Regions from separate parts of the Homo sapiens genome. Here regions 2, 3, 4 and 5 are each reported to be linked to region 1. The links are microRNA targets in miRTarBase. Many come from high-throughput screens and were not tested one by one. Region 1 holds a microRNA gene; each other region holds the end of a gene's coding sequence.

Region 1 (4,756 bases):
AAAACTAGAGAAAATGCATCAAGCAGCACAGAATACAATTCGCCAACAAGAAATGGCAGAAAAGGATCAACGGCAAATAACCCACTGAATGATAACTGAGCACTTTAGGGAACAACCTGCCTTATCTACTATTTAACAATAACTAGAAAATATGCTTCTGTGTGCTGAAAGTAGTATGTGTTATCAATAAAATTGATAGTATTCATAGAAATACAAAAATATCCAAGATTGATGAAATTTGTATTGTGAATGTAAACACTCTGGTTTGTATTGAACATAAACAGTTAAACTATGAACCAAGTTTTATGGGGTTTAAGTCATGTTTTTAGAATTGCAAATTAAATTATTTGTTCACCATTCCTATTGCTATCTTTTATAGATAACATTCTTGGGATCTTTTATAGCATTCTTGGGCACAAGGGATTAAATACAACTTTTATATACAGAGGATCTTTACATGTTTATTAAATCTGAATTTGAAGATACATTCCAATCTTGCATAAAGTGTTTGTTGGGCTTTTACATTACGTAATTAAAAAACAAAATTTTTTAACCAATTTTATGTGCCATGTCACGTTTAATGCTATCTTGTGTGACCAGATCCCACCAGTAATGACAAAACTGTCTTAAACCTCATTTTTTTTTTTTTTTGAGACAAGAGTTTCACTCTTGTTGCCCAAACGAGAGCAATGGCACCATCTCGACTCACTGCAACCTCTGCCTCCCAGGTTCAAGCAATTCTCCTGCCTCAGCCTCCCAAGTAGCTGGGATTACACGCATGCGCCACCATGCCTGGCTACTTTTGTATTTTTAATAGAGACAGGGTTTCTTCATGTTGGTCAAGCTGGTCATGAACTCCCAACCTCAAGTGATCCGCCCACCTCGGCCTCCCAAAGTGCTGGGATTACAGGCATGAGCCACCGTGCCCAGCCCTTAAATCTCATTTTTAAGAAACCCTCACCTATTCTGTAGTCAGCTAAGCTTTTAATTACATTAATTTTAAGCACTTGAGAATAAAATGACTGCATTTATCATCCAAGTGTCAAACAATTAAAAACCTAAAAATGGTAACTATATATAAGCTGAGGTAATATGGGCTTGATAAAGCCCATGAGGTAAATATGAACACTAAACTTGGTTTTAATTCTAACAGACTATATCTAAACCTGTAAGCAGTATACTCCTAACAGTACCCTCATAAATTCTGAATATAATTCTTGTTTGCTGCAGTCAATATTTGGCAGTTTAAATTAGCACAGACGTTGAGGCCTTGCTGAGTTATTAGGCTATGTAAAAGAGGTTAAAAATATGATCATTCTTTATTGTTAATTGGTAATATTTTCTCATACATTAGGTAAATGTCAAGCTTTGGGTCTCTGGAGTATAACTTTTTGTAACATTAGCCATTATTTGGTAACAGAATTTAAGGATGATGGAATGATGGAAGGTATTACATATTTCTAAAACTTAATTAAGCTCTAGGTCAGATAACAATGGAGTAAAGTGATACCTGCATTTTTTTCCCCAGTGTAATCTTAATTTACTATTGTATTTTTCACTTAAAATTTTGTAGGGAAAAAAAGTTTTCAAGGGAACACTAAGATTAAATTGACTAGGTTCAAATATGCTTCCTTATGAGATTCAAAATTTACTGTGTGAAATTAAAGTTTAAGAGACCTAAAAAAATGTACTCCCAATAAAGAATCAATACTGCTTCACATGTTTTATTTTGGTGTACATTCTTCTAGAACCAGGTTCATTTTTCCAGTTTTGTAGAAAAATAGATGTTCCAGCCACCTTTTACTTAACTGTCTAGTCTTTTAAGACCAATCAGTATGTTCCCTGGAAAGATGAATAAGTCTCATGACTAATTTTTTAAAAATTCTTTAAGACAAAGAAATAACTTTCTTTTTTTACTCCCAAAGCACAGTATCTCAACAGCAGCAGCCAACATGGGGTTTTAGCAGCTTAACTTTACCCCCTAAATAAAGCTTTGTATAAACCAGTGATTTTACTACAAAAAACACTGTCCTTGAAAGAAAGGAGTGGCAGTCAGACATCAATGCAAAACTTGGAATGATTAGATAATAAACATGGCACTTACAAAAGGTAGCTTATTAGAATATTCCACTTAAGAAGAGGTTACTTTTCTGTCCCTCCTTGCCCCCTCGAAAAACAAAAAAAAAAGAAAAAACATTTCCTTTAAAAATTCCCCTTAAATGTAGGTTTATAAAATGTCAGAAATGCCTTGTACCCAAAACAAGTGCTTAAAAAAAAAAAAAAAAAAAACTTGTGCTAACAACTCTTACAATTCAGATATATATTTTTATAACATCTAAGACTGCAAGAGTTCTTATATTCAGTAGCTCTCTGGTTTAAGACGACCTCCATCTCCTTCGCTTACAAAACGCTTTCTGCCCCTGTAATGAAGAAAAAAAAAGACATGAAAACAGATACAAATTCTGACTATAGTCAATATATAAAAAAATTAAAAACTTGGTATTTTTTCGTTACGTGTTAGCTTTTAAAGGGTTTTCCATTAAAAAAAAAAAGCATGCCTCTAATTCCTTTGGAAAAGACTCCCTACTATATATCTTAGCATAAAACATCAATATCAAATCTGAGTTTTTGTTTTAATAAGTTCACTATCCAAACAGAGTCACATTAAAAAAAGTTGACTCAAACTAAAACATTTTATTTAGAAATTTAAAATTATTTCTAATTAATTTCTAATTATTATTTGTAAGCTTAACAGTAAGCCAAATAGGAAACACTAACATAATTCAGAATTATGCAAACTGGAGCTGTGCAACCTATCAAAATATCCATGTTTGGCAATTTAAAAAAAAATGTTTTATCAACTGTAGAAAAGCCATAACTTGAATGTGGAAAAAAATCAGAATTACAGCCTATGCCCCATTTTGGGATTCGTGCTTTGTCAAACTCAAGAAGCCCTGCTCTATAATGTAACCACACTCTTACCTACATGTAGTGGCAATAGCCCAGAAGGAACAGCTGGCCAGTGGCCTAAAGCAGTAAGTGGGAAATAGAACTTAGGCAACATTAGCCCTTACTCTCTGACCCCAGGCCAATAGGCACAAGCATGCAAAACCACACACAAATGTGCACCTTACCCAAATAGGCTAAAAGATGAAGGACCCAAGTCAAAGCTGTATGGTATGTATACACAGAAAGTTTATTGCCTCATGTGACCCTTGAGAATAAAGCCACACAGAAACAATCAGACTTTCAAACAGAGGCTGAAAAACTTTCAAAAAGCCAATGCCAGGGTACTGGCCCCTTTTCATATTAAGTCTAAGTGGAAAACAGCTACATCATCTTGAACATAAAGGCTTCAGACTGTATGAGACCAAGGTAGGGAATGAAAAAGCAGTCAATAATAAGAAGGCCAAAGTTCAGAGTTTTTACTGATGTATATCACTTGGCACATCCATACATAAATCCTGCCATCACCAAGCTAACGTCTGTATTTCCAAACATTTCTAGTAAAGCTATTAAACTATCTTTCATCACTTTCTTTTCCCTCTCTTTTAATGGCTTCTAAAATTCTAAAGCAAAGGCCCCTACCAGGAAATATTTTTCTGACTTTTAATTCTTACAATGCACTTAAAAATATCAAAGCTTAAGAAATTTTCCAGATAAAAAATTATAAGAACTTAAGATTATATAAAACTGACCCACACAAGCAAAAAGTTTAGCTATTACTAAACATTTATATTATTACATTATAAGCTTCATTATTAGCTTTAACAACAACAAAAAAACTTACCAACTAGTAGCAAAAATATTAATAGCTCCAAGGAAAATCACCCACACACATACACTTTCCAGTGAGAACATCCTCCACACACCCCCCAACACACACACTTTCTAGTGAGAACATCCAATTAGCCCTAATTCTCCAACCTGTAAAGAAGTCAAGGAAGCCACATCCAGTACAGGTAAGAGCCTAGATCTTTGAAGCCAGAAAAGTCCTGAATTCATACTTGGCTTCTACCATGTACTAGCCATGTGACCTTAGAAAAAGTACATTATACCTCCCTAAGCCTCAATTTTCTCATCTTATCACTGATAATACCTACTCTAAACACTGAAACTACTTACAACAAAGGACCTGCTCCACAAGATTAGTTTCTTTCAAATAAACTAGGACTTCATGAGGCAGTCCTGTACAGATTTACAAGGGGGCTAAAACAAGCTTCGCCCTTCTTTCTCCATGAACTCACAAGAGTCACGTTCTTCAGTGACTTCAGGGAACGATAAACTAACTTAGCAGTTAACCTTCCCAAAGATCTCATCCACTATTTTACATTGAGAAAGTAGTATTTAAATAAAGTACCTTGAAGGACAAAGATCTCTGAGTTGTTTGGAAATTATTCCAGCCTGAAAACATTCTTCTACAAACCGCTCCAGCACAGAGTATGAATGTGGGACATCCAGATTAATGTCCGGAATTTCATTGTAAATTCTCTCATAACCCTACAACAATGAAATTACATGCAGAATTGTTAGCCCATATAAAATAAATGTCATAAAACACAATCCATCACTATGTCATCAATTTGTATTTAAGGCCAAATATTCAAATGGTTAAACTGAAGTCAGATTTGAATCGTGAGAAGCACAGAAAGTAGATTTGTTACAGTGTTTTACAACTGTTCTCTTTTATTAGAGTCAGGAAATAACAGACATTGGCAAGGTTGAGGAGAAAAGGGAAGGTTTATACGCTGTTGGT
Region 2 (4,855 bases), not on the chromosome of region 1:
AGGAACAGTCCATGGAGCTGCTCCCAGCTTCCTCTGCAAGGCCCCTGCCGGGCTCCTCTGCGCAGTGCAGAGGCTCATTCAGGCCCAGCGTGGAAGGCAAGGGGGACGGATCTGAGAAGGCGGGGCTTATCTCCCAGGGGCACAGCAGAGTGAGGGATGGGCCGATGAAGTGTACGCCTGCAAGGGGCAGCAAGCAGCCCCAAGAGCTTAAACTGTCCAGCTGCAGCAAGTCTGCTGGAGCGACCAAGCAACATGTGTCACCTCAACTGAGGGCTGCACTTGGCAGTCACATCTTCCCAGACGGGCGATCGCCACTCCTGAGAATACTGCAAAGGCTCATCACTGAGAAAGGGAGGTTACCCTCGAACCCTCAGGCATCCACACATCACAACTCCCCTCCCTGCTTGGCTCCACTACAAACCCTGAGCAGGCACTGAGGACACAGCCACCTCCACACAGGGCATGAGAAGGAACAGCGGCCTTCCTGTGAGTAAATGCAGCAACCCAGCACACACAGCACTGCCACATGGAAAGCTTGGTTCAGGTCACAGCAAAATCCCAGTTTAAGGACACGGCTCGCTGGTTGCAGATAGAAACTTCTAGCAACCCAGAAACCAACTGTGAGAGTTTATGATGAGGGACGTGATCCCACCACTCTGTCTTTAGGTAGACACCAAGGCAACACATCAAGTGTCCACACCTCAGACACCCACCCACCCCAGCCCGGCCCTTTCCGGTGGCTCCGCCAGCCTGCTCACCCGGCTACCTGGACTCCACAGGGTGAGCACAATGTCCACACTTGTTCCGCAGTTTGCTGCTGCGTCCTCCTTCCATCACTGCCGGGCCCACTTCACTAAGGAGTGAACCTGGGAGAAGGCGCCTGGCCCAGATGTGGCCCAGCAGGGATCCAGGCCCAGATGGCTGGGCTCAGCCCTGTGGAGACCACCCCCTCCCACCCCGCCCCGCCCCCGAGGAAATCCTGCGCAGGCATCTGTGGGCGGAGCAGGTAGCGTTCTCCAAGGTGCGCTGTCACCCCTGAAAGGAAGATCGGTTCCCTGGGAGGAGTCTGCTATCTTCATACTGGTTCCATGTCTTCAAATAAACGTGCATTACTTTATAACCCTAGAAACCGAACTTCTGAGGTAGAAGGGGCTCCGAAGCTGTGTGCAAGGCATGCTGCACGTGAGGGGTACCCACCACACGTCAGGAAACGCCCCTGGGAAACTGTCAACTAACATGCCCGCTCCCCTCAGTTTGGCCAGAAGCAAACCGCAGAGAACAGTGCCAAGTTTAGATGACTGGAATTTGTATTTCTGTTTCTGAATAAACATTTTGTAAACAAAATTATTAAACACTTGGAAAATTTCTTCCCAATTAAAGTCAATTTGTACCTACAGACTTAAAAATACCACATACATGGCCAGGTGCGGTGGCTCACGCCTATATTCCCAGCACTTTGGGAGGCCGAGGCAGGTGGATCACCTGAGGTTGGGAGTTCGAGACCAGTCTCATCAACATGGTGAAACCCCATCTCTACTAAAAATATAAAAATTAGCCGGGCGTGGTGGCACATGCCTGTAATCCCAGCTACTTGGGAGGCTGAGGCAGGAGAATCGCTTGAACCTGGGAGGCAGAGGTTGCAGTGAGCCAAGGTCACGCCATTGCACTCCAGCCTGGGCAACAAAAGTTAAATCCTGTCAAAAAACCAAGAATGCCAGGCGCGGTGGCTCACGCCTGTAATCCTAGCATTTTGGGAGGCTGAGGCAGGTGAATCATGAGGTCAGGAGTTCGAGACCATCCTGGCAACACGGTGAAACCCTGTCTCTACTAAAAATACACCAAATTAGCTGGGCGTAGTGGTGGGTGCCTGTAATCCCAGCTACTTGGGAGGCTGAAGCAGGAGAATCGCTTGAACCTGGGAGGCAGAGGTTGCGGTGAGCCAAGATCGCGCCACTGCACTCCAGCCTGGGAGACAGAGCGAGACTCCATCAAAAAAAAAGAAAAAAAAAAAACAAAAAAAAACAAAGCCACACACACGGACTAAACTTGCAGAGAAATGATGCTTGGAAAACAGCTGATTACTCAGCCACTGCGCACCACGGTGGAAACAAGCAGGCTTTGGTGTACGGTGTCACAGGTGAACACGGCGAGTCCAGGGAATGAGACTCCGGCTACACTTCTAAGTCACAGCAGCTGTTCTCTCCTGTCTGTGGTCCTTCCACAGACCCAGTCTGTTTTCCGACCAAGCACCCCTAAAGCGCTCAAAAGTCACATTCTCTGAGCAGTTTATAATTTTGAAGGCTACCAAAACAGGCACTACAACTACTACTAATGCTGAACAAATGATGTTTCTAAAAGATAAAAATGCTATACAGAAACAAAATAGTGCTTTAGATTTATTCCTATAAAACACATACCCTTTAAACTAGGGTCCATGAGGATTAACTTTCGACATCGGGGGCTGTCAGAGGTCGTGGACACCCCCAACTCCAGCCGGGCGCTGAACAATGTAAAAAGAATTTGCTCTGCAACCCTGTGGGGGGGGGAAATAAAAGTAACCCAGCGTCCATTTAATGCAGCCAAGTGCAATTCCTTTCCCCACCTTAGAAAGCACCACCAGATAATACAGCAGAACTGATCCTGCAGAAAGGTTGCTGGAGGGTCAGGCCGTGGTCGTAACTAACACCACATTCCCATTTTGTTTGCTGGATAATTTTTTAATAAAGTGAGGTTTACATCACTGATATTTAAGAATGGCTATATGCACAAAAGAAAACACACCTTTTTGGTTAAGGGGTGAGGAAGTTAGAGAAAGCATGAGAAACAGGGAGCATGTGGGGTGAGGCGGGGCAGGAGTGGAAGGCTGCAGGCACCCCCAGCTCACTCCCTGCCTGCGGCAGCACCCATGACACTACAGATCAAGGGGTTATGAATGACATGGATTCAGATTTCTTTCATTCTAGACTTCAACCTAGCCTTAACCTTTTGTTTCAGCACCAGTCTAACAGAGCAGCGCAGGCGTTTCTCATCCAGCAGCAATGCTACTTCCTCACCCAGGGCAGGTGCATGGGCTGACCCTGATGGGAGCCTCCAGGAACACTGCCTTGAGAAGGCACCACCGAGGGGCTATGAGGTCCCTGAAGACCAACTGGTGCCTGTGATCTACAAACAGACAAATATTTGACCTTTGTCTTCAATGACATTTACATATAAATAGACATAAATAAAATCCTCCATAATTTACTCTTAGGTCTAGGAAGATGTGGCTGTGTGCGGCTCCTGATTTTCACCCAGGTCTCACTGCAGCGCAGGACATAATGAAGAAGTATCACACACACATTTAAAGTAAAACATGATACATTCACACTGTTGACTGAGACTGTAGTGATGCTCACTGCAAAAAACAAAACAAAACAAAAAACCCTTATTTAAACCTTAAAAAAATGAAACACACCAACTGCAATTGTTTAGGCTATAAAAGTTCTAATGTAGCAGCAAAGGATGTTTATAGAAAAAATATACTTTTAAGAAAATAGCTGAAAAAATCTAAAGAGATAAGGTATAAAAAGTTTAAAAAATATATCTTAAGACAAAATACTGCCCAAAACATGTAAAACTGAATTGTAAAAATTCACCTATCTAAAGGTAAAAGGAGGTTGATGCAGCTGCGGCTCACCGTCCTCTACAGTGGGGGACACAAAGAGACACGAGGGGCCCAGGGCTGTGGGGACGTCAGAAGACAAGAAGCCTTCCAGAACAGCCTCTGCCTGGCGCTCCACAGGGGGGAGGTGAGTGGGACGGGCCTAGGGCTGCAGCCCCACTGGTAATGGGCTGTTCTGGGATTTCTCAGAATCAGCAGACAGGGCAGCAAGGCTGGGCCGCTGGCGGCAGGCGCACCCTCCGTGGGAGCCAGTGCTCACGTGTCAATGCGTCAGAGGCGGCTGTGAGCACTCAGGGCTCCTGCTCAGGTCTCCACCAGGATCTCCACCACGTGGTCCAGCTCGCCCAGGTCGGACTTGCAGCTGGAGCTAGGGCCTGGGGTGGCCGGAGCCAAGCCCTCGAGCCCTTCGCAGGGGCCCGGCCTGGCACCCCCCATCATGCCTGTCAGTACTGTGTCCAGGTCGTAGTAGGGGCTGTCCACGTCTGAGAACAGCTCTTCCATGCAGCTGGGGTTTTTAGTCTCCAGCGTTTCAAATATCTGATCAAGTGACTTGTGAAAGCTTCCTCTGTTTTCTCGAGGGCCATCCATCTCCCAGGCGCTGCTCTGCAGGTGCCTTGGTGCCTGTGCTGAGGTGACTGGGCAAAGGTCAGAAACTGGACCCTGTGTGTGGCCGTCCCCCAAGCCAGGAGCAGGATGTGCCCCCTCTTGCCCCCACGCTGCACGGCACAGGATCTCCGTGGAGACCAAGCGGTCGAGCGGCGCCCGCTCTGCAGCCTGGGGTGCCACTGTGCGCCACGTCCCATCCTGCGTCATCTCCTCTTGGATCTGCCGGACCGTGTTGGCAATGAGGACTGAGCGGCACAGGTTGGGCTCCACAAGCATGTGGCAAAGCTGCAACTTCACCAGAGACATGTCCAGGAGCGACTGCCGCTGCAGGCTGTATGAGGACACTGTCTTCAAGCCGGCCAGGGCTCCCTCCACGTCTTCCTCGTGGCCAACACATTTCCTCTTCAGTCCTCGTGCAAACATTGTGTCCTGCAGAAACCAAGGAAGACACCACTTAGCACACGGCAGACTCTCTGCGGACAGCGCCCCTTGGATTTCGTCTGACTGCCCTCACTGTACGCAAGGAGCAGCGACTCCGTAACTGGCAGGGACTTGACAGAGCTGTAACTCCCTAACAGAGCTGAGACG
Region 3 (4,855 bases), not on the chromosome of region 1:
TACAAGCGTTTGAGTTTTCAGTTGTTTAGCCTGTAAGATCATCAGGATTTTATCAACAGGATATTTAGTCTCTGTTGCTAACTCTGCTGTATTTTACCAGGTAAAGGTTCTAAATAATTAATAATAAAATGTTTCCAGAAAATTTATTTTTAGTTTAGATGTAGTTCAGCTCATCAAACCTTTTAGGAATCAGCAACAGCAAGAAAGAATATAGTGTGGAGTCATTTGAAACTGTAGCATCTAGAATTTTTACCCTGTACTGCTTTAGAGTAAGCAGAAAGATGAGTGTAATACAGGAAATAAAGAGAATAGCAGAAATATCTTCAAATTATTATTTCTTCCTTCTTTCTCTTAAGCTAATAGAGTTTTAAAATGAGTCAAATACATATTTTAATTGATAAACTGAGTTTATATTCACCTATTGGAAACAGTACAACATATTTTACATCAGGTTATGAAATATGGATGTTTTACTAAAAGACAGGAAGAGCTTTTTCCAGTCTTTAAAGTAAATACATATTCAAAGAATCTTAAGGCATACCATTTATTCATATTCATATCTATTGAAATACTGTACATCCACATACTTCAATAAATAGTTAAAAACCTGACCTCTTTTTAAATCATTTCTGGATTTCAAAAAACAATTTTTATTGAAAAGATTAAATAGGTAACTTTTGGCTGTGTCACAAAGCTAAGCACAATGGATAAATTAACAATTGTTCAGTAAATTTGATCATTATAGATGATTGACTTTGATAATTCAGTTTTTCAGAGTTTTCTGACTTCAAATGTAGGGGTATTTATATATATATATATTTTTTTTTTTCCCTGAATTACCTGGGTAATTTTCTCAGTTCTCCAGTCTACTTTCTAGATATAGCTTAAATGTTATGATGAAGCATTAATTTTTCAGTTAAGTTATAAACCCCCCAAAAGTGGCTTTAAGTTTGAAATTCTCCCTCTCAAATCTTTTAGTGTCTCAAAAACACCCACATTACTATAACTTGGGCAGTACTTTTTATTATATAATTGCTGCATAATAGGAACTTAATGGTATAATAGGACTTATGTTTCAAATGCGATCATTGAAAAACGTAGTTACACCACTTGCAGTTAAACTAAGAATGCAAATGTGTAAGTTAACTACCCTAATACTCTGATTCTTCCTTCCCTCTCATCCTTTCTTTCTTCCTACCTTCTCCCCTTCCTCCCTTCCTTCCTTCATTCCTTCCATCCTTCCTTTTTTTCCCTCTTTACTGCCTTTCCTTTTCATTCTTTTTCTTTTCTCTCCATTCTCATTTTTAAACTGCTACTTATTTTTCTTTCTTCCTTCTTTAAAAAAAAATAGGGGCAACAAAAGGAGTCCCACAAGTGGAACTTGTAGAAAATATAATCCTGAAATGAACAGCTAACACAAATTGTTATAGATTAAAAGATAAATCAATTTATAAAACTGCTATTCTGAAATTGCAACAATCTTGTACAGTCAGGACTGATAAAATGGGGTAATCAGACATTTTATATGTCCATAAATGTAAAATCATCTACTTGAACATTATATGCAATACATTCACACAAAAAAGCAAATACTGTAGCCTTATTTGACAATATTGAACTCATAAATACTCATGATTTCACTCTGTCCGAGGGCCTAAGGACTAGGAATGCTGCTGTGATACAGAAAAACATAGTGAATACCTCCTCTATTTAAAAATGTCACTCAAGAAAGTCTCTTCTAACATAAAGGCAAATACATATAGCTACTGAGCTATGACTGTACTTCTGTCACATTCTATGGTAAAAACACCAGACTCCACAAATTTGGAATCATGACAACACTTTGAACTAATTATTTGGTTCATCCATAGTTTATACCTCAATTTACCTACAAACCTTACAAAGAGGAGGTATTTTAACTCTAGGAAAGCGGTCACTGAATAATATGCATTCTTGATCTGTTTCTTTCTCCCAAACAATGGTACTGATGGTTAACATTTTTTGTGGTAGCACCACTATTTCTAGTAAGTAGATTATTATGGAGTGTGCCACTTTAAAGCTGCAATACAAAATAATATTTTATAGTTTATTCAACAATTCCACAAAGAATATTTCTTAAAAGCAAATAAATAATAAAGTTAAATGCCATATTTGTTCTAAAAACTCTTTTTTAATGTATCAATCAAAATAATGTCATACATTTATTACAGTTAGTAGATTTACTAGCTTTATGCCTTATTATTGCCATTTTGTGGAAAGAGTATACTTATGTCCCCTCATTTAAGATTCATTTTTCTAATTAAAATTGATTTATGATGTACTTTGGGACTAAGTTTTACTTGAAGAAAAAAAATCACAGTTTTTAAGCCATCCCTGCTAGGGCAACATACTAGATATCTCAAATATGTATAACCACTGCAAAATTTCTTGTATCTAATTTTATTATAGGGTCTTTGTTGTTACAACTTGTAAAAGGGGACTATTTGTAGAAATTTAGGTGTACTGAAATTGGTAACTTCATCAAACCTGTAAAATGGCTTTCAAGGTGATGGCCTTTCTTTAGTAAAGAGTGAAACCATCAAACTATTCCTGTAAATTAATGTTAGAGTAACAGCATTTTCCTTCAAAAATGTAGTTTTGCTTCTTTATAGTAGAAATAATTTAACATTCACAATAATTTGATAATTACTTATCTTAAGATATTCTCATCACTGGTGTTTTGTCTTTATTTGATCGCATCTTACATATATCATGTAAGGAAAAATAAAGGATGGTCTTTTTTGATTTTACTTGTTTGCACTGAAATGGCTATATAGAAAGATTTTATTGAAGAATTAGCTATTTTAGAGATTGGTCTGCTACATACCGATATAGAATGTTTGTTATAATATATTTTGGAAGTTTTAAAATATATAACATGCATTCCAGACTATCAACTGAGTGATACTTTCAGATGGAAAATATGCAAAATGCTCCTGTCCACAGGAGCACTGCCTCTGTCATACTAACTTAGCTGCCACAAAATAAAATTAATGATGAGCGCTTACCAACTCTTGTAATATTAGGTGATAGGACTTTGTGCCCTTTCTGACAAATCATCTTAAAATTTTTGGCTTGGACTAGTGAAAGGAAAAGATGCTGTATTGCTAGGCAATCCTTTGAGTGGACTGTGCTGTCATTTTAAAGGGAATGATTTCCCACGGTGGATCTAACATTTAGCTACAACTAAAGAAATCATATGGTATATTTACTATACTGTTATTAAATTGTCTCTCATCACAAGAACTGAGTTAGTGTGGGGCAAAATTCTCAAACCCCATTGTCAGTGCAGGAAGAGATTTTTACAGTCCAATAGCTCCTTCGTTACTTAGAGATAGTGTATGGTTTAACTTGATCACTCTGGTTTATTTTTACTTTCAAATTGTAAGATTTAGCAAAACATTTTATATTAGTTGGAGACAAAGAGAAAAATATTATTGTATGAAGGCACACCCATGCTGAACTTACAGGAAAGAGAAGCAGAGCTGCACAGCCAGTTATATTACAAGGCTCATTCCTGAAACCTGAATATCATGCGAGCAGAAAAATCTAGATATGTGTTATATTTTGAAGAAATAATCTGAAGGCAATATTATTTGCTTTTTTATCAAAAAAGAAAAAAATGCATCTTTGTAAATGTGGATTGACTCTTATTGAAACAGGGAACTGAATGCTTGTATTGCAGCCTTAAAGAATCACATATTCACTGCAATATTCGTTTTTGTAAACTACAGCCTGCAACCTAGCAGACCATGACTGAATGCTTTTGAAAAGTTGTAGATTACAAACATGAAATCACAATTAATATCCTCTAAAAGTAATTTCAGAGCTTTCACGTCTTAAAAAAAGGACAATGTGTACTGCTTCACAAGGTAATGTAGCTAATCAAAAAAGAGTAGAATTAAAGTATTTACATAATGAGCAATTCTACAGAAGGCGATCATCCCCATGTAAGCACTGCTGATTATATCCCACGCTGCTTTTAACAAACTGTACCAGATTGGATCCAGCCATCAGCACTTTCAGAGAATCCTTAAAAGCCTTTTATGGGTCTTTGAATTTATTGTAGAATGGCATTCTTCAGGTAGAATATGCTGGTGAAAGAGGACAGTGTCAACACAAGGTACCAGCAGGAGAAAAGAACATCAGCGCTCCCGGTAATTCCATACTGGGCTGTACTTGGAGCTGGAAAGAAATGGAAAAGATTAAATCAAAATCTAATTTGTGTCTTCCAGGATCTTGACAATAATCAAAAGGTAGCCAGGTGCATCGGGGAAAGCACTGACATTGGAGTCAGACAGACTGAAGTTCATATCTGATTCTGCTATATGACAACGTGTGGGCTATGTGGCTAACTTCTCAGAGCTTCAGTTTTCTCAAGGGCAAAATGAAAATAATAGAAATAATAGAATCCACCTCACAGGGCTGTGGTGAGAATTGGAGATGAAGCACATACAGCATATTACATCAACTAAACACATGCTAAGTACTCAACAGCTACTAACATTATTATTCCTCTTATATGTACTGTAAATATTTGTATTAATGGACAAATAGTCATTCATGTGTATATATAGCTGTGTTTTATTAGCTAAATACTGTACTAAATGCTAGGAAAACAAGAATATTGTCCCTTCCAAGGCCTTTTTTTGGTGAGAAAAGATCTTCAAACAATTATAATACAGAATATTAGAGTTGCATGTGCATACCCAGTAACACAGACAAATTGTGCTTTTAAATTGCCTGGGTAAGGGAGATTTCAAATACAGTTTTACTAAAGGAGACTATCATGTGGGTAGAAGAAATAACATATTCG
Region 4 (4,000 bases), not on the chromosome of region 1:
AGGAAATCCACAGATTGAGACAAGCTGTGGAAATGGTCAAATTAAATCTGACTCTTCATCAATCTGCTCAGTTGTCAGTATTACTAACGGTGGAGGAGCAGGACAGGAAGGAACCTCACAGTAGTGACACTGAACTGCCAAAAGACAAACTTTCCTCAGCAGATGACCATCGCGTGAACAGTGGGTTTGGACGTGGCCTTTCTGATAAGAAAAGTGGAGAAAGTCAGGTTTTATTTGAAACAGAAATATCACGGAAACTCTTTGATACCCTTAATGAAGACCTCTTTCAGAAAATACTGGTACCCATTCAGCAAGTATTGAAAGAAGGCCACCTGGAAAAGACTGAGATTGATGAGGTGGTTTTAGTTGGGGGCTCCACTCGTATTCCTCGGATCCGTCAAGTCATTCAAGAGTTCTTTGGAAAAGATCCCAACACATCTGTAGACCCTGACCTAGCAGTAGTAACGGGAGTGGCTATCCAAGCAGGGATTGATGGAGGCTCTTGGCCTCTCCAAGTCAGTGCTTTAGAAATTCCCAATAAGCATTTACAAAAAACCAACTTCAACTGAATTCTGCAGAAATAATGGTTATTTGTGAACTTGTCTGATGATCTCTTCCCATTTATCAGATTACCTTTTCCACAAAAGAAAGTCTCTAAAATATCACAGATTTACCTAGAGGGCAACATTTAGATACAGGAAAATTTTACATAGTGTTTTGTCTTAGGATTAGACGTGACCAGATTGATCCTGTTTGATTTTGGAGAGATCCTATTCTAACAAATACTCTAAAATGATAAAATTGAGGTACAACTCTCTTAAAAGAGTATGGATAACTATATTTTCTGGATTCTGGAGGTTGATAACCATATGCACTTAACATTATATTCTATAAACATTAAGTAGTGCCAGTTATGAGATTCCCAGTTCTTACTAAATTGTATTAGCAGGAGCTGGTAATTACTTGTATTATCACATGTAACTAATAATTTGAACTATACTTGAAGGACCGTGTTGATGTCAGGTATTTACAGTGGTTGGAAGATAGCAGTATTATTAGCATAAGCTGCATACGTAATATTCAGTAACTGCCATATTATATAACAAATTTACATTCACAAATTCAGTATCCTGTTAAGTGTCATATTCTTGTAATCTGCATTCTCCAGGAGTTTTATGTGTTTAATAGATGAATTTATTTTATTTCTAAAGGTATTCAAATGTTTCAGCACCATATAATAGAAATACCCAATTATATTCTAGTTCCTTTATGTCCTGTACATCATTCTCTGCTTGGATTTCCATTATTCTGTTTGGTTAGAGAATAAAATTGGTAATTGCATTTGAAGAATGTGTTAATGTCATAATAAAGCCATGATTGCTATCTTATTTTTGTTATCCGAGACCTTTGCAAACATTGGCAAATAGCATCAATTACCTACTGTATTTGTTTCTTTGTTTATATTTTCAGTAAGCCCTGGGGAATATAGCATGGAATTGAGCTACTAAATGGTTTTGGTTCCGTTTTACGGAGATTTTTCCTCATATTTAGTTTTGAATGAGGAAAATGTGCTCAATTATAAAAGCTGTGTTATTGTTTTCTATTATTATTTTTAAATAATCACACTTGGACTCTTTTCAAACATTAGGTTAGTTTGTAATGAAAGCAAAAAATTTGTGAATACTGGAAGTAACGTGGAAATCTAATGTGGAAGCCATTGTGGCAAGGTTTCTACAAATCGGCATTTGGAGCAGAGTTGTTTGTTTTTGTTGTTTGTTTCCTTTAAGAAAAACCACAGGGACCAAGAAAGAAAATATAACAGTTTGATTTCTGTCATACCCATTGTATTTGAAGATATATGGATACAGATTATATATATATATACATATTTTCCTTAATAGAGGAATGCTTCATATTATTCAAAAATTATATCCTGATCACCTTTTTTTGTTTTTTATTGTAAAGTATCTCTGCTTTATCCATTGCTGAATTCGATAGGATGTTGAAATGCTGGTCACCAAAAAAGGAAACTGAGCAAATTCATTTCAACAACATCAAAACTTCAGCTTCTCATAGTAAAAAGCTGAATGTTACTAATATTTTTCATATCTAAAAAAAAATTCTTAGCAATGAAATTGCTGTTAAAACACAAATTTCAATCAAATACTTTTGTGTATAGAAAATATGTATAGTAGGTAGATAGAAAAGTATAAAATGTTTGTTGAAGTATCTTATTTTAGAATGAATGGAGAAATGCCAAAGATGAATCCTTCACTGCATTATGAAAATATTTCACATGTTCTCTTGGACTTTATATAAATCTGTAATAGATTTTAGAATTGAAAAATTCTTTGTGAAGGTCTTCTAAAAGTGTTCCAATTTATCTCAAAATCTCCATATATAGGATCAGCTTAAAACATAAAGAAAACCTTGAATTTCTCAAATGTTTGAGATGTTCAAGACAGTCTCTTAATCCGTTAATGCTTTTGGAAACAATTGACAAAATAGGGCAGGCAGCTCATCTCATGTCCTGAAGTTGGAATTTAAATAATTCCTATTTGCAAATTAGAATGACAGTGTTGGAATTTGGAGGCAGTAGTTGAGCATATTCTCTAGTATATAGCTACACCTTTAATAAAATGAAGGAATGTCTTCAATCATATTTTAGTGGGCTATTTATAAATAGTCTTGAAGTCAATTTAGTTTATTTATTTAAAAGATAATGCATCCTGAAAGGGATCATTTATGAATAACAATCTGAAGTCTTTTCATAAAAAAAATTAATAAACTTTAGTTGTACATTTAGCCAGTGTTATTTGAAGTATGTAACTTTTAAAATATTAAGTGTCTTGTATGATTAGAATATGTGAATGAGTAACTTATTTTGTATCAGGAATGTTTTGGTACTGTGTTTTCACTCAAACCACTGACTTAACAGATACTGCTGTGTATAACATGTACTAAATATTACAGTTATTGTGCATAACAGATTGTTCCTCTTATATTTGTGTGTATACAGGCAATTCATGTTTTAATGTAAATAAATACCATTTTGCAGTTTGTTTTTTAAACTATGTACTTTTTCATTCAGGACTAGTCTGGAGTATACTTTTCAGGCATATAAATAAGAAAGTGAGGATGGAACTGATTTGATGCCAAGGCACTCAATCTCAGTAGCTGTTGCCTAGTTGTTCCCGAAATGTACATTTCTCTATATCCTTTCTATTGCTTATATGCTTTCCACTGGCTTCTCTAATTTAGAAAAGACAACTTGTAGCATATGAACAGTATCTTCAGAATTCTAAATACTAATTCATGGCTTCTGACCACGATGGAGCCAGAAACTAAGCTAACCTAATCTAGCTAGTTAGTAAATAATCCTGCATAACAGGATTCCTTTGGTTGATGGTTAATAAATATTTCTCTAACAAAGTTTATATTAGTCTTTGGACAAAAAAACAATATATTATGTTTTGCTTCTTTAAGAAACTCATTTGATTAATGTAATCTAAGATGAGCCTTTAGGTAATGACGGTATACTTGACCTTGGAGAGACTCAAATATATGAGGAAATACAGCAATACTTCATATTTATCTTAATTAACAGATAGTGCCTCACTGAGGTAGGCAGCCTCTGATGTGGGACCCAATGATCCCACCTTGTGGAATTAACATCCTTGGGTAATCCTATTCTCTTGAATTTGGGCAAGAGATAATGACTCAATGCTAATGAATAATACGGCAGAAGTGCTGGGATGTCATTTCTGAAATTAGGTTTAAAAAAGATCAGCTTCCTTCTTGGATGCACCCTCTTGCTGGCTTTCTCTTTTGGATCCCAGCTGCCACATAAAGAAGACCATGTGAAGAAGGCTGTTCTGGTGAATACAGGTGTAGAAAGACACCCTAGAAGATGAGAGCCACATGGAGGCAGAAAGGTACCCCCCACTGACAGGAGGCACGAATTTCCAGCTATGTGAGACAGCCTTCTTGAAATGAACCC
Region 5 (4,855 bases), not on the chromosome of region 1:
TTCAGGTCCTAGGACTTAGATAAGCAGATCCTTGAGTCCGATGCAAAAGGCATCATTCAAAGATAAATACATCAAAAGGCAGTAACTGAGGACTAACTTGAAAAGTTTGAAAGGTGAAAAAATAGTTCTCTACATATTTTCTGTTTTCAGGAGATGAGTATGATGTATGTGCCATTTGTTTGGATGAGTATGAAGATGGAGACAAACTCAGAATCCTTCCCTGTTCCCATGGTATGAGTAATTACGTACTGCTTTGAATTTACATATAGTAATTTATATTTAGGTTCCATATTCCAGGGGAAGAGATGGAAAATAGTTATTAGCACACCAGAAGCCAGGCCCTGTACTAATTAGTGGTCTCATTCAAGGATGGAGGTGTATTTATAAAAATTTATAAACTTTCAGGCCGGGCATGGTGGCTCACGCCTGTAATCCCAGCACTTTGGGAGGCCGAGGCAGGCAGATCATGAGGTCAGGAGATCGAGACCATCCTGGCTTACACAGTGAAACCCCGTCTCTACTAAAAATACAAAAAATTAGCTGGGTGTGGTGGCGGGCGCCTGTAGTCCCCAGCTACTAGGGAGGCTGAGGCAGGACAATGGCGTGAACCCAGGAGGCAGAGGTTACAGTGAGCTGAGATTGTGCCACTGCACTCCAGCCTGGGTGACAGAGCAAGACTCCATCTCAAAAAAAAATAAAAATAAAAATAAAAAATAAACTTTCTTCCCGTCCCTACATGATACATACAGAACACTGAATAAATATGGCAAGAGATTAAATATAAAAGTATCAACCGCAGCATACTAACTAAAGATGTATATTTTGCTTCAACAGCTTATCACTGCAAGTGTGTAGACCCTTGGCTAACTAAAACCAAAAAAACCTGTCCAGTGTGCAAGCAAAAAGTTGTTCCTTCTCAAGGCGATTCAGACTCTGACACAGACAGTAGTCAAGAAGAAAATGAAGTGACAGAACATACCCCTTTACTGAGACCTTTAGCTTCTGTCAGTGCCCAGTCATTTGGGGCTTTATCGGAATCCCGCTCACATCAGAACATGACAGAATCTTCAGACTATGAGGAAGACGACAATGAAGATACTGACAGTAGTGATGCAGAAAATGAAATTAATGAACATGATGTCGTGGTCCAGTTGCAGCCTAATGGTGAACGGGATTACAACATAGCAAATACTGTTTGACTTTCAGAAGATGATTGGTTTATTTCCCTTTAAAATGATTAGGTATATACTGTAATTTGATTTTTTGCTCCCTTCAAAGATTTCTGTAGAAATAACTTATTTTTTAGTATTCTACAGTTTAATCAAATTACTGAAACAGGACTTTTGATCTGGTATTTATCTGCCAAGAATATACTTCATTCACTAATAATAGACTGGTGCTGTAACTCAAGCATCAATTCAGCTCTTCTTTTGGAATGAAAGTATAGCCAAAACATAAAAAAAAAAAAATCCTCAGTATAGCTTGCAATTAAGACCTAGATCACAGTATTTAAGTGTTTTGCGTTTTATACATGAGGTCAGTGCTACAGCCACCTAGCATGAACTAACCCAGCTTCCACCTCCATAAAGTTACCTAGAGTTGTTGAGTTGGAATATGTTCTGGCATTTACCTGACCTGCCAATCATTAGGGAGAGGCAACAAGGTAATTCAGCCTTTCCTCCTATCAGCACAAAGAAACTCAAAGCTGTTTTTTCCCTTTCTGTTCCAAAGCAGTCTTATCCTGACAGGAGCGGTCTATACTAGTGCAGATTTCAACACTTTTTTTTAACGTTTTAATTACTATAGTGTTATGTAGAGATTTGATTGAGCAGCTAATGTTTCTGAACTTTACTTACTAATTTTCAGTGTCCTTAAGGGTTCTGTAGTGTTATCAAAGCAAAAAGAAAATGCTGCATAAAAATACCAAACTTCAGCAACTGTTAATACTCAGATCATATACCTCTTAATAAATAGCATCTTATGCTAATTAGCCCTGCTAAACTATGTACAGAGGAAACTGTTCAAGTATTGGATTTGAAAGTAAGTGACTTATGTTTAACAGAACTAATGATGTATTGAAACACTGTATTATGAAAAGCTAAATTATACATCATTGTAACTATGTAGAAAGTGTAGACTAATGTATAATCAAAATGCTAAGGATTTTTATATGGCCTTGTATGAGGGGAGTTTGAATGTTAATAAACATGTTTTCCACTTTAAGATCCAGTAAATGTCTGTTCTACTGTAGTATTACTTACCATATTAGCCTTATTTATATATATCCTATAAAGTGATAATGATTGAGGTCAGAGAAATCACATCACCTTAGGACTTTATACAAGGTAACTGACCATTCACATGCAGTTAGGTAATATCCCAAAAAGTTTAGACTGCTGCCAAAATTATTCCAAAAATAAACAGTGTACATTTTGGTACCCTGTTGTAAATTATGGTATATCGAGGGAAAATTTCACTTTCCAAATTGCCTTTTAAAAAATAATGTTCATAATCAGGAAAAAAATAAATAGGTATTTCTACTTTGGAAAATAAACGGTTGAATTCAACATCAGCTATCTGATACCTCATCCCTCTTCCCCTTTTTTATAAAAAATTAAAGAACCACAGGCCTGAGAAACAGGACATCAAAGGTTACCACGGTAGTTAAGCAGAGTTTGGAATTTGACATAATTGTATGGCCCTAACCTTTTTAAACCTGCTTGGTCATTTGCATAATTTTCATTTAACCTAAGAGGGTGTGAGGAGAAAACATTGAGCTCAGTATCTGGCACATCAATGCGCAATAAGTAATAGCCTTCAAAATAATTATTATTAAATAAAAACAAACCTAAAACAATATTTTAAAATAGGAAAAGGGAAAAAAGTAAAAAGTCACGGTAATGGTTAAGTATGTATTAGATGTTATATTCCCTCAGTCTTTAATCCAAAGTTTAGAATAAGGACCTGGTCCCTTTATGTTAGGAGTTTTATGGAAAAAAAAATTTTTTTTTGAAATTCCAAATAATTACTAACTAACTGTAAAAAAAAATCTACGAAGTGTCTTATTTAGCAGCACTGGCTAGGGCTGTTACTAGGTTCTGTGAATGTTCACTTGAAATGTTCTATAATTTCATGGTATAGCTTTTCAAACAGGACAGTAGGTGCAATTAAAATCCAATTTCTATTTAAAAAACATTTAAAACTTTCTTGATTACAAAAGTAATATTAACACTAGAAATCAAAATATAGTCACCTGGAAACTTTCACTCCAGAGATAAATTTATCTTAATATATTGCCTTCAGAAATACATATGTAAAATACATGTATATTAATACTGTATGTATGTGCACTGTCATGTGACATGTTTATATCCTTATATTATTAACATTCATTGGTAAACATTCTTATGTCATTCTTCAATGACTATTTTGTCCTATGGACTTAAAATCATTTATTCAAACCATACCCCTTAAAAAGCTGAACTTTGTAGATATTTTCCAAGTTTGGATGTCATAAGTAATGCAGCATGATGGACATTCTGGTATACAAATTTGTATAGCTTCATTTCCATATGCTAAATTCCTAGAACTAAGTACAAAGCAAAGTACGCATGTATGTATTTCCCTAAGTATTTTTCTAATGAAATTGTGGGTAGAAAGCCAATGAATAGTTTCATTATATACTATTTTAGTGATACACTCACCCTTTACCACCTTCTCTACCCACAACCTCCTCTCTGAACACACACATACACACTGCCCCTTCACCTACTTACAGATTAATTAAGAGTTTCAGAATTTTGGTCACTGCCTTCTATAATTGGTTACCCTAATAGTTCTTTACATGTAAAGTGTGAATGTGTATTATTGTAAAATCTCAAATCATCACAACTCAACCACCAAATTTTCATTTGCCCCGTCTTTTGGCCTTAACAGGTCAAGAAACTGATACCAGGTTTTTATTATAGTTTTACAATTTCTAGGTTATGTCCAACTACCAAAATAGCCCCAAATCCTTTATCTCCCATATTTGTACATCCCTGTGTATGTACAACCATATTCACAACCAGTGCCTGACAACTAGTCAAAGAAAAAAAAACTTTCATTATGCATAGTATATTTTAAGACAGGTTAATTCCTATTCCCTAACCCATTTTTTCTCAAAAGGTAGCATATACACCACTTAAAATGAATCAGACTGACTCAGTGATTGTTTCTGAAAAGGGATTCCTGGGCTTATGGACTCTCCATCTCCAGAGTGGAACCCCAGAGTCCATAGTCTGCCTTATAACCAGCTCCCCAGTTTTACTGAGACCTACTAACTTTTGAGCACCCCTGGCTCTAAGCGTCCGCTTGACAGTTGTTGGTAATAATGATTTATGTAAATAGCCCTAAATTTACATATTTATCAAACTTCAATATATATCAGGGATTTTATGGCCTCTGGATTTAAACCTATTACACAGCCATGGTCAACATGTCACTACAAAGCCAAAAAATGCAAAAGCATCCCAATTATCTTATATGCTGCCTAAGGAATGTCTTCTGCTCTTATGTGGGAGGGCCCCAGCTGGCTGACTTCAGCCTGCCAACACAGCTTCCAAATCTAAAGTCATATGACATTTCAATACAGAAAAATCCACAATAGTGCAGAAACCCTTCTTGGTACTCCCTTTACTATTAGATTTCACATCTAGAAACCAGCAAGAAGAGGAAAATACTTATTTTCTAGCAGATAAGTCAGTTGCTTCTCACATACTCCTGAAGATGAGCCTGAAATGACTAAAAGCTATGTGTAACAGATCAGAGTCCATTAAAAAGAAATTCCCAGGCACTAATTTTATCTGTAATATTA

What was found. Region 1 holds the annotated microRNA hsa-miR-4680-3p (UCUGAAUUGUAAGAGUUGUUA, at 2,297-2,317, opposite strand). A microRNA usually pairs through its seed, bases 2 to 8, with sites in the 3' UTR of a target mRNA and lowers its output. Matches are read on the target gene's strand: a 7mer-m8 pairs with bases 2 to 8, a 7mer-A1 pairs with bases 2 to 7 and ends in A, and an 8mer does both.
Region 2: the mRNA of CDCA4 is a reported target of hsa-miR-4680-3p. Seed matches in the 3' UTR shown: 7mer-m8 at 3,617-3,623.
Region 3: miRTarBase lists NEGR1 as a target of hsa-miR-4680-3p. Seed matches in the 3' UTR shown: 7mer-m8 at 832-838.
Region 4: the mRNA of HSPA13 is a reported target of hsa-miR-4680-3p. Seed matches in the 3' UTR shown: 7mer-m8 at 1,120-1,126.
Region 5: the mRNA of RNF13 is a reported target of hsa-miR-4680-3p. Seed matches in the 3' UTR shown: 7mer-m8 at 1,416-1,422 and 7mer-m8 at 1,666-1,672.

Annotation. Positions count from the first base shown.
Region 1 is chr10:110,895,692-110,900,447 of GRCh38, reverse strand. It overlaps MIR4680 (microRNA 4680), which reads right to left and starts at 2,358; the gene lies at 2,293-2,358. PDCD4 (programmed cell death 4) reads right to left here. Exons shown (of 12, transcript NM_014456.5): 11 at 4,361-4,500; 12 at 442-2,420. The coding sequence ends at 2,360. BBIP1 (BBSome interacting protein 1) reads left to right here. Exons shown (of 4, transcript NM_001195305.3): 4 at 1-1,718. The coding sequence ends at 88.
Region 2 is chr14:105,007,240-105,012,094 of GRCh38, forward strand. CDCA4 (cell division cycle associated 4) reads right to left here. Exons shown (of 2, transcript NM_017955.4): 2 at 2,334-4,696. The coding sequence starts at 4,690. The coding sequence ends at 3,965. Among named protein-coding and RNA genes, the nearest start is that of CDCA4, 11 kb to the right of the region's middle.
Region 3 is chr1:71,403,347-71,408,201 of GRCh38, forward strand. It overlaps NEGR1 (neuronal growth regulator 1), which reads right to left. Exons shown (of 7, transcript NM_173808.3): 7 at 1-4,224. The coding sequence ends at 4,100. Among named protein-coding and RNA genes, the nearest start is that of ZRANB2-DT, 320 kb to the left of the region's middle.
Region 4 is chr21:14,370,186-14,374,185 of GRCh38, reverse strand. HSPA13 (heat shock protein family A (Hsp70) member 13) reads left to right here. Exons shown (of 5, transcript NM_006948.5): 5 at 1-3,071. The coding sequence ends at 569. Among named protein-coding and RNA genes, the nearest start is that of HSPA13, 11 kb to the left of the region's middle.
Region 5 is chr3:149,959,906-149,964,760 of GRCh38, forward strand. It overlaps RNF13 (ring finger protein 13), which reads left to right. Exons shown (of 10, transcript NM_183381.3): 9 at 151-231; 10 at 835-2,234. The coding sequence ends at 1,199. Among named protein-coding and RNA genes, the nearest start is that of PFN2, 8.6 kb to the right of the region's middle.